Linked DNA regions of Homo sapiens: region 1 is linked to region 2. Evidence: fine-mapped expression QTL. A gene starts in region 2. The other region holds a variant in brackets. All regions are shown on one strand. Distances are from middle to middle.

Evidence for each region.
Region 1: its variant is fine-mapped to the expression of NCAPD2 in whole blood (TOPMed, PIP above 0.99).

Annotation. Positions count from the first base shown.
Region 1 is chr12:6,530,275-6,535,790 of GRCh38, reverse strand. It overlaps NCAPD2 (non-SMC condensin I complex subunit D2), which reads right to left. Exons shown (of 32, transcript NM_014865.4): 30 at 4,974-5,100; 31 at 4,715-4,870; 32 at 3,836-4,464. The coding sequence ends at 4,379. It overlaps GAPDH (glyceraldehyde-3-phosphate dehydrogenase), which reads right to left and starts at 1,274. Exons shown (of 9, transcript NM_002046.7): 1 at 1,222-1,274; 2 at 930-981. The coding sequence starts at 958. GAPDH-DT (GAPDH divergent transcript) reads left to right here and starts at 1,384. Exons shown (of 2, transcript XR_002957397.2): 1 at 1,384-2,327; 2 at 2,648-3,875. RefSeq lists silencers at 983-1,122, 1,843-2,092 and enhancers at 721-1,494, 1,495-2,268, 2,269-3,042, 3,003-3,132. The variant G/A (reference allele first, on the strand shown) is at 3,254.
Region 2 is chr12:6,491,515-6,496,514 of GRCh38, reverse strand. NCAPD2 (non-SMC condensin I complex subunit D2) reads right to left here and starts at 2,413. Exons shown (of 32, transcript NM_014865.4): 1 at 2,361-2,413; 2 at 1,290-1,439. The coding sequence starts at 1,416. It overlaps MRPL51 (mitochondrial ribosomal protein L51), which reads left to right and starts at 3,253. Exons shown (of 3, transcript NM_016497.4): 1 at 3,253-3,457; 2 at 3,543-3,653; 3 at 4,048-4,629. The coding sequence starts at 3,379. The coding sequence ends at 4,244. RefSeq lists a silencer at 2,456-2,785 and enhancers at 2,221-2,818, 2,986-3,035.

The DNA.
Region 1 (5,516 bases), 39 kb before region 2:
GGGAGATCTGGTTTCCGGAAGACGGAATGGGGAGAAGGGCAGGTTCCCCGAGGCGCCCAGACACCCAATCCTCCCGGTGACATTTACAGCCTGGCCTTTGGGGTCGGGTCAACGCTAGGCTGGCAGGGGAAGGGCGGGGCCGTGAGGTGAGCCGGCGCTGCAGGAAGGGGCCACCACCAGAGGGGCCATTTTGCGGTGGAAATGTCCTTTTCCAACTACCCATGACTCAGCTTCTCCCGGCTTGGCACCATGCCACAGCCACCACACCTCTGCGGGGAGGGGACACAAGAGGACCTCCATAAACCCACTTCTTTGATTTACCAGAGAATAATCTAGGAAAAGCATCACCCGGAGGAGAAATCGGGCCAGCTAGCCTCGCTCCACCTGACTTCCCCGCCACACGCGACTCCACCCATCGAGGCAGGAGCGCAGGGTTAGTCACCGGCAGGCTTTCCTAACGGCTGCCCATTCATTTCCTTCCCGGTTGCAACATGGCGGCCGCTCTACCGCAGGCGCAGCATCCGGACAGGGATGCACCCGCTGCGCACTAGCATCCCGGGGCCTGCGGTGCCGGAGGCCGTGGGGGAGGGGCTCCTCTGCGACACGTGACCCCGCAGAGCGCGAAAGGAAAGAAAGCGTCCCCCACCTAGGGGTCCGGGTCGGGATCTCGGGCGGGAGTAGGGACCTCCTGTTTCTGGGGACTAGGGGAAGGAGGCTCCGGGCAGATGGCGCCGCAAGGGCGGAGCTGCACAGGGCGCCACAGCCTGGGTGCGGGGCTCCGCCAGGTCCGAGCGCTGACCTTGAGCTCTCCTTGCGGGGAACAGCTACCCTGCCCCCATACGACTGCAAAGACCCGGAGCCCGCAAGGCTCGTAGACGCGGTTCGGGGGCGGTCGCAGCCCAGGGCCCCCCAGCCACCCGCGAACTCACCCGTTGACTCCGACCTTCACCTTCCCCATGGTGTCTGAGCGATGTGGCTCGGCTGCGCGGAGGGAGAGAACAGTGAGCGCCTAGTGGCCCCGGCCGACACACACGCCTCCCCTCCCCTCCCCCACCAGGCCTCCATGCCCAGCCCGCGCCGCATCACGTCCTCCGCCCGCCCCTGCAATGCGGAGGCCGCCCGGGCCCACCCCGCAGCGGCGCGAACACATCCGGCCTGCGCCCGCCCCTGCCGCCTTCAGGCCGTCCCTAGCCTCCCGGGTTTCTCTCCGCCCGTCTTCACCTGGCGACGCAAAAGAAGATGCGGCTGACTGTCGAACAGGAGGAGCAGAGAGCGAAGCGGGAGGCTGCGGGCTCAATTTATAGAAACCGGGGGCGCGGCGGCAGGCGGTGACTCGGACCCCGCCTCCCGCCAGGCTCAGCCAGTCCCAGCCCAAGGTCTTGAGGCCTGAGCTACGTGCGCCCGTAAAACCGCTAGTAGCCGGGCCCTACTTTCTCCCCGCTTTTTTTTTTCCGCAGCCGCCTGGTTCAACTGGGCACGCACCGAGCGTGTGGGCCCCGACGTAGGGGGGAAGGGACTGAGATTGGCCCGATGGGAGGTGATCGGTGCTGGTTCCCAGGACTGGACTGTGGGCAGCAGGACACTAGGGAGTCAAGGACGGGGACCCTTACACGCTTGGATGAAACAGGAGGACTTTGGGAACGACTGAGATGGGGAATTGGAGCCGGAGCCCAGCACCGCTCGCGGCTGCACGCGGCCTGCCCCCTCCCCTTTCTTTCTTTCAAAGGCTGAGAGGCGGGAAAGTTGGGGAACTTCTCCTCGAGGCTCTGCGGTAGTGACACCGGACTGCTCAGGCAAAGGCCTAGGAGGGGCCCATGGGCCTCGGGCGGGGGCCCGTGGTTCCTTCCCAGCCCCCACTTCCCCCTCCCCATCTCCTGGCTCCTGGCATCTCTGGGACCGAGGCCTGGGCTGGGCACTGGGCACTGGGCACTGGGGGCCTGGAGAGGAAGGAGGCTCGGGAGGCGGCTTGAGGGGGAGGGGGAGGTTTCTGCACGGAAGGTCACGATGTCCTGCAGCCCTGTAGCCTGGACCTGATAATTAGGGCAGACAATCCCGGCCCTGTGTGCACCAGCGGCTCTCTCCGGGCTGGGGCCCCAGGCGGAGGACAGGATGGCTGGTGGGGGCCCAGAGGCCTCCCACAAAGGCACTCCTGGAAACCTGTGGGCTGTGCTGCCTAGGGAGAGAGACAGTGTGCCTTTCATTCCATCCAGCCTGGGGCGAAGAGCGGGACGTGAGGGCGGAAGTCCCTCCCCGCCCTGGGACGTGCAGGCGAGCCAGGAGCCAGGGACTCCCTTTCACTGGCTGCGCCGGGGGATATTGAGGGCAGGGTGAGTCAAGAAGAGGGAAAAAGTGGGAAAAGAGGTCTTGGGCACACGGTGGGAACAGGTCCCCTGCCCCCTCCCACAGGGGATCCATTCTTCTGGTAGGAGGGCAGAGGGCCAGGTTTGTGAGTGTGGGATGGGAGGGTGCTGAACACTTGTAAGGAAGGGGGTGGGGTGGGGTGGCCTTGGCCCATCAGCAGGTGCATGGGAGGGGGATCCCGGGCCTCTTTGCTGGCCCAGCATAACCTGACACCAGCCCCCTGCCCTTCTAGCTAAAAGCCGGTTGCTAAGTTTAGCCTGCCTGGTGATAATCTTTGCTTAAAAAGCACCCACAGGACTCCAGTCCCTGACCCTGCCTTTCTGGGATTGCCTTTCCTGCTGGGACCCAGAGCCAGGCTGTGTCCTCGTCTGGCTGCCACTGGCATGGTTGGTGCGGGCTTTTCACAATGACCACCCAGAGCAGAGTAGCAAGAGCAAGGCAAGAAGGTCCCTAATGGTGAAAGGGGTGGGGTGGGGGAGTGGAGGAAGCCCCACCTCTGACTCAGCTATTCCTGCAACCAGGACCGTTAACCCTTTCTCATTGAGAGCATTAAGAGCACCTCCATGCTCCTGCACCACCCAAGCGTGATCTTCCCCTCTGCCTCATGCTTGTCATTTTTCATTACTGTCTTCTCCCCGCAAAGAGGGAGCTCAGTGCCCAGGGAGCACTACTGACGTAGTGTGCTGTTGTCATGACAGCAGAGGCACCAGTGTGGTCACGACAGCCAGCTCACAGCCTCCGGTTCGAAGGTGACTCAGCAGAGAAGACTTGAGGAGCTGGAGAGGGGTGCGCAGGCTTCAGGGGGCAGCCCGCCTGCAGCATAGCTCACGCCCTCTGCAGACCCGGGAACAATGAGGAATGCTGGGAGACAGGTCTTGTCTCCTGCAGAGCT[G/A]GAGGGGATCATGATCTGAACTTCCACGAGCCTGGGCCGGTCTGCTGCCAACCTTTGGAGATGGGATTAGGGAACACGAGTGGGGGTGGGGTGAGGCACACGGCAGAAAGCAACCCTTGGTCTAGAGCAGGTTTTCTCAACTGTGACGCTATTGACATTGTGGGCCGTGTGATTCTTTGTTGAGGGGCCATCCTGTGCACTGCAGGATGTTGAGCCACATCCCTGGCCTCTTCCCACAAATGCTGGTAGCATTCTTCCCCTATAGGCTATGACAACAAAACAGGCCCCAGGTGTTGTCAGATGTCCTCTGGCAGACAAAATTGCCCCCGGTTCAGAAGCACTGATCTGGAGCCTAGGCACTGCATAATTCTCCCCAGAGAGGCTGTCTGGTCACTGTGCAGGGTCCAGAGGTTGAGAGGGGAAAGGTGGCAGTGACGGGGCAGGAAGCTCATCTGCCATCCCGGGACAGGCCCTAGGACTCTGGGCTCACTCATCTCTCTCTGCACTGATAACCCTCTCTCTGCTGCATGAAACTGGGCTAATGTGAAAGATGAAACAAAGACAAGCTTAGGAAAAAATGTCTAAAAGTATATAAAAACATTTATTCATTAGAAAACAAGGAGATTGGCAAACATATATTCCAAAGTTGAAGCAGCTCAACGCAGTTCAGTTAGGCTAATTTAAGAGAAAGCCTTGCATTTTAAAGAGCGTGTAGGCATTTTTTTTTTAATTTGAGATGGAGGTTCGCTATTGTTGCCCAAGCTGGAGTGCAATGGTGTGATTTCGGCTCACTACAACCTCCGCCTCTGGGTTCAGGCGATTCTCCTGCCTCAGCCTCTTGAGTAGCTGGGATTACAGGCGCACGCCAATACGCCCGGCTAATTTTTTATTTTTAGTAGAGATGGGGTTTCTCCATGTTGGTCAGGCTGGTCTCGAACTCCCTACCTCAGGTTATCCACCCGCCTTGGTATCGCAAAGTGCTGGGATTACAGGCGTGAGCCACAGTGCCCGGCCTTTTTTTTTTTTAAAAAAAAGAGACAGACAAATATTTTACAAGGGAAACAGAATTCGAATTCCAGGTCACCCTACAGGATACCCTGCACAGGGAGGACAGGAACAGACTTCCTAGGATCTGTGCCTGCGAGCCGATGCTCTGAGAATGGGAGTTGTTTTCTTGGGTGTCTCGTCTTCTGTCATCTCTGCTGAAAGATCTATGCAAAGAATTAAAGGAATAAGAAAAAGCTGAGTCACAAAGATGGTGAAAAAATAGATATCAGAGAACAAGTGAGACAATCCCACACCGCACAGAAGAAATAAAATCCAAGCTGTACAGGAGAGGCCCTTCTGCGGCAGTGGGGCAGAGCATCTACACTCAGGCCCCCGCAGCAGGTCCTATGGAAACCAGCCCTCTGCACCCTAGCTGTGTGCCTTCTCGGCCGGGAACAGGCGGGAGCATCATACCTTCCTCACTGGACTCATCACTTGAGAAGACAACTTTGGGTTTCTTTTTGGAAGCTCGCTGCTGGGTGTTTGGATGCCGACGGGTAGTACGGCGGGGCTCTGGTGTGACAAAGTCATTGTCTGAGGCTGTAGAAGCCAGAGGCTGGTACCTAGAACCTAGAAAAGGCAGGAAAACGTGATTTAAAAAAGAAGAAGAAACAAATCACTGCAGGAGGGGAGGGCCCAGTCTGGTCTCGCCCGCACAGGCTGCCTTACGTACCAGTGGATGGTTTCTTGGCTGATGGCGCTCTCTGGCTACCTGCTTGGCCAATCTCAAGCTCCTTGATTCCATCCAAACCTCTGGTATGACAGGCCCGAAGCTTCTGCTCAAATTCATCTATTATAGCCTGGAGGGAGAAAAGGAGATTCAGAGCAGGCCTGAAAACAGTTACTTCTGATTAAAAAGAAACAAGGCCATGGAAGACATGGAGGCCTTAAACGCACATTACTAAGAAGCCAAGGTGAGAAGGCTCCATACCGGATCATTCCAATGATACATTCTGGAAAAGACAAAGTGATGGCAACAGTAAAAAGATCAGGGGTTGTGGGGAGAGAGGGATAAATAGGTGGAGTGCAGGGGATTTGTAAGGCAGTGAAACTCTTCTGTATGATACTGCAATGGTGGGTACATGTCATTACGTGCAGTGAACTCCAAGGTAAACCATGACTTTAGGAGATGATGTGTAAGTGTAGGTTCAGCTGTAACAAATGTGCCACCCTGGTGCAGGATGTTGAAGGTGGGGAAGGCTGTGATGTGTAGGGG
Region 2 (5,000 bases):
AAGTTGAGGCTGCAGTGAGCCGTGATCATGCCACTGGACTCCAGCCTGGGCAAGAGAGTCTTTACCTTGTCTTTCAAAATAAAATAAAGAATAAAAAGTACAAAAAGAAAATTCCTTTTTCCACTTCTGGACATTAGAGGAAGAAGCTGCCATCTAGACTGGTGCAGTGGCTCACGCCTATAATCCTAACACTTTGGGAGGCCAAGGTGGGTGGATCATGTGAGGTCAGGAGTTCAAGACCAGCCTGGCCAACATGGTGAAATCCCGTCTCTACTAAAAATACAAAAATTAGCCAGGTGGTAGTGGCGTGCACCTGTAATCCTAGCTACTTGGGAGGCTGAAGCAGGAGAATCGCTTGAGCCTGGGGAGGCAGAGGTTGTGGTGAGCCGATATCGCATCACTGCACTCCAGTCTGGGCAACAGAGTGAGACCCTGTCTCAAAAAAAAAAAAAAAAGAAAAACAAAAAGAAGTTGCAATCTAGCAACCATGAAAGAAAAGCCAAGAGGAGACAAGCTAGGACCATATTGTCGAGCTGCTGCATTAACCAACCCTTCTTCTTGTAGGTGATAACAAAGGAATTGGTTATTATCTCTATATTTACAGATGACGAAACCAAGGCACTGAGACAATTAAGTAACTTGTCTAAGGTCAGAGTGGTAGAACCAGGATTCAAATCCAGGCAGCCTGGCTCCAGTCTTTAATCTCTATACCTCTCCAAAGCAAGCTAACTGCTACAAGACCGCTCCCAACAAGTACAAGGACATTATGAAGTCTTTCTGGTAATGCAAAAGGTGCTTTTGATCATTTACAGGTTTCAGTAGGTGACTGCACTGTACATATATTGCTCAGTGTTGCAGTGGTACATATATATTATGGGTTTTTGTCCCCATAATTGCACATCCAAAAAGACTCCAAAAAGGTATTACCAAAAACAGGTCGAGTTAAGTCCGAGACATTCTGAAAAAGCGATCCACTCCTATAACTCTTAAATCCACCAGGACTTAATTTTGACACACAGTAAGGGGTAAAGATGGAAAATAACTTTTCCCCAAAGAGTAATCACATACACCAAGACTGTTTTTGACTAATCCAGAAAAGGAAGTTAATGAATGTACTCTTTGGGTCATGCATCCCATGCAATTTTAGGATAAAACAGCAAAATAGGAAAAACATGTTTCTTGCTCTTATGATGCTTCCTGGTGTAGTGGAACAGAAATGACAATGTAGCAATTCCATGTGAGATGGTCCTTTGAAAGAGCTAGGTACAGTGACAGCTATGGACTCTTACCTCTAAGCTGTGGTGGAAGATGTTTGATGGACAGTACCTCTTGCACAACATACTGATTCACCCCTCCACTTTTCAACAACTCCTCTGGGGATAATGGCAGATGGAACTCATACATTTGGGGAGCCATTCTACTCCTACAGGCTCACAGGGCTAGAAACCAAACAGTGAAAAAGTCAGGGTCTATATTCAAGACCTGTCTTCGTATCTGGTTCTATTACTTTCCCATCCCCAACATATATAATGGCTTTTAGTTTTATAGCAAGCTAGTAACATCATCTGGTTTTGTTAGTTCCCCACCCCCAACATATATAATGGTTTTTAGTTTTATAGCAAGCTAGTAACATTATCTTACGGGATCTGAGATTGACCCTGGACTAGAAACTAATTCTAGTAGTGACTTTGGCACTTGGTCTTGACACTTAAACCTCTGGGCTTTATCTGTAAAAACAGGGTTACTAAACTCTGATTACTTCACAAAGTTGCTCTGATGATCAAACAAATCAAGCAGTACGAAGGTGTTTAAAGAACTATAAAGTGGCATATTAATGTGCAAAGTACTATTATTTCCATTTTTATGTGCAAAGCTCCTTAAGTATAGAGAGAATGGTCTGATCTCGTCTGAGGCCAAAACAGTGCCCCAGCATGGGCTAGTGGGCTTCCTGCACCAGAATGGTAAGAGCATTAACAATGATGATTTATTTATCCTGTGCCAAGTCTGTTAGGCTGTTTGCATGTATCATATCTGATCTAAGTATCCTAACCTCAATCCCATGAGGTGCATAATAATACAAATGAGTTTACAGAGCGGAAATTGAAGTAAGAAAGTTAAGCGATTTGCTTAACATCTTCCGTTGCGGATCTGTTAAGCGATTTGCTTAACATCTTCCGTTGCGGATCTGTTAAGCGATTTGCTTAACAACTTCCGTTGCGGATCTGTCAGACTTACAGTTTCTCACACATCGCGCCCCAGGGATATACTTACTAGGCCTATTGTATTTTGCCCAAGACTGGGTCACACTGCCATGTACTCGACTTTCCTACTCTTTTACGACCTGCAACACCACATCTTACCTGGGGATCTCACCCGCGGCTCTGATTCCGGCAGTCAGGCTGAAATGAAAAGGAAAAAACACGCGTGCACAACACGCACCAATTAGCAAGGCAGTTTTCAAGTCGGCGGAGAATCCGGCCAATCCCCGGCAGGCAGAGGCAAAGGGCCGCCTCTGAGTCTGGCAACGCGCGGGCAAAGCCACAAATACCGAGTTCAAATCTCAACGGCTGCAGGACGGCCAATCGCGACGCCCGCCGGAGCGGCCGGCCAATCACAGCGCCGCCCGGGGGCGGGCCAAGGCTCCGGCTCCGGCCCCCGCTCCCACCCCCGGCCCGCCTGCGAATCCCTCCTTGGCCGCAAGGTCCCCCTTTGCCCAGTCGGCGGGGAGGAGGCCGTATTTCTGCTGGCCAGAGACGTCGCGTCCCTGGCTGGGCATTCAGTCACCCCCAGGAAAGGAGGCAAGTCCACGCTGGGAGTTAGAAGGCATCGCCTCTAATCCAGGTTTCGCCATCTCCTCTGCTAAGTGACGTCCAGCAAGTCACTTCACTTTCAGGACCTCAAATCTCCTCCCCAGTAGTAAAATAGGGGTAATAAAAACAGCTACAGCGGAAGACTGTTGTGAGGCACAGAGAAAGGGCTTGGTCATTGGAAGCGGGTTCCAGGTTCTCAACCTTCATTTCCTTCACGGTTGAAGGACGCCAAAGAAAGCGGAAAGGGTGAATTTTCTTGAAATCTCAGTTTTGGGGAATCTTAGCGACGAGTCGCGGACCTCAGCTTGTCCGGCGCTCCAAAACTTCCGGCAGGCGGACCGGAAGCACTGAGGCGGGAAGGGTGGTAGAGGCCCCTCCTGCCGGAACCCGGGGGGCGGGGCTCGTGGCTGTTGCGGATGGGGCGTAGGTGGGCGGTGCGCCCACAGCTGCCTGGGTAAGGCCCAAGATGGCTGTCTTCGCCTTAGTACTCGTGTGAAGTTGGCGGGGACGGTTCCTGTCATCTTCTTGGGCTTATTTGGTGTGCTGTTGAAGGGGGGAGACTAGAGAAATGGCAGGGAACCTCTTATCCGGGGCAGGTAGGCGCCTGTGGGACTGGGTGCCTCTGGCGTGCAGAAGCTTCTCTCTTGGTAAGTGGCTGATGTAGGCACCCCGATAACTGCTTCGTAGTATAATAGGCGGCTCAGATTAATTCCCTCCCTTCCCCATCCCCAGGTGTGCCTAGATTGATCGGTATAAGGCTCACTCTCCCGCCCCCCAAAGTGGTTGATCGTTGGAACGAGAAAAGGGCCATGTTCGGAGTGTATGACAACATCGGGATCCTGGGTAAGACTTGACCTTCGACGTGGTACACAATTTCAGAATGGCAATTAGGCTGTAACGACTATCTTTTCCTCCTGTGTAGAGAGTGGTACTGTGCTCAATAGTAAGAGCAAACACTTATGTAGCTGTTTACATTGTGTTTGGCACTGTTCTGAGTCCCCTCGTATAATTTTTACTTCATAAGTAAAAATAAACAGTTTTTCCAAAGTTAATAAATGGCAGCATCAGAATTTTAACCCCAAGCAGTCTGGCTCCAGAGTCTGTGCTATTGTTCTGTACTGTAATGTTCCTTGTCTATAGGTGCTGCTCAGCAAGATGCAACCGTGGGTTGAAAGCTTAGCTGGTGTAGGATGAGTTCTCTTGTCTTGGATCTAATGTGTTCTCTCACATTACACAGGAAACTTTGAAAAGCACCCCAAAGAACTGATCAGGGGGCCCATATGGCTTCGAGGTTGGAAAGGGAATGAATTGCAACGTTGTATCCGAAAGAGGAAAATGGTTGGAAGTAGAATGTTCGCTGATGACCTGCACAACCTTAATAAACGCATCCGCTATCTCTACAAACACTTTAACCGACATGGGAAGTTTCGATAGAAGAGAAAGCTGAGAACTTCGGAAAAGGCTCATCTGTCACCCTGGAGAAGGGAAACTGTACTTTTCCCTGTGAGGAAACGGCTTTGTATTTTCTCTGTAATAAAATGGGGCTTCTTTGGAATTTGATAGCCACATACTTTTGTTTTCCTCTAGATGCTGCCTCTACTCATGTAGACTATGAAGTCTTGACTCATCCTAGATCTTAGGATCTTAGGTTTGGGCTTCACACCACTTGCCTTTTACAGTCTAGCTATACCTAATTCCTTTAAAAAGAAAAGTTGGTGAGAATGTTATTGGCGCTTTTTGACATAATGCTGTTATGTTAATAGTGTTTCTAAAGAGCCTTCCACACTGAAATGAAATATAAGAGAAAAATGGAGTCATACTTCTGTACTACTCTCATAAAATATTTATTAGGCATATTCTCTGAGTAGGAACTATAGGAAAAACAAAAAAGTGTGAGGTGTCCTTTCCATTTAAATATGAAACATTAAGTACCATATGAATGGTAGAGATGGCGGATACTAAGCCTGACTGGTCATCAGTTTTCTGGGTGTTTTAACATTTCAAAAGCCTAGTCCTAACCCCTAAAGATTGATCAGTAGAGCTGAGTTGAGTCTAGGGCATCTATGTGTTTTGTTCTTTTTTAATAATAATTTTTAAGAATTACAGCTGGGCAGAATGGTGCCCACATGTAATCCCAGCATTTTGGGAGGCTGAGGTGGGAGGATTGCTTGGAGACAGGAATTTGAGACT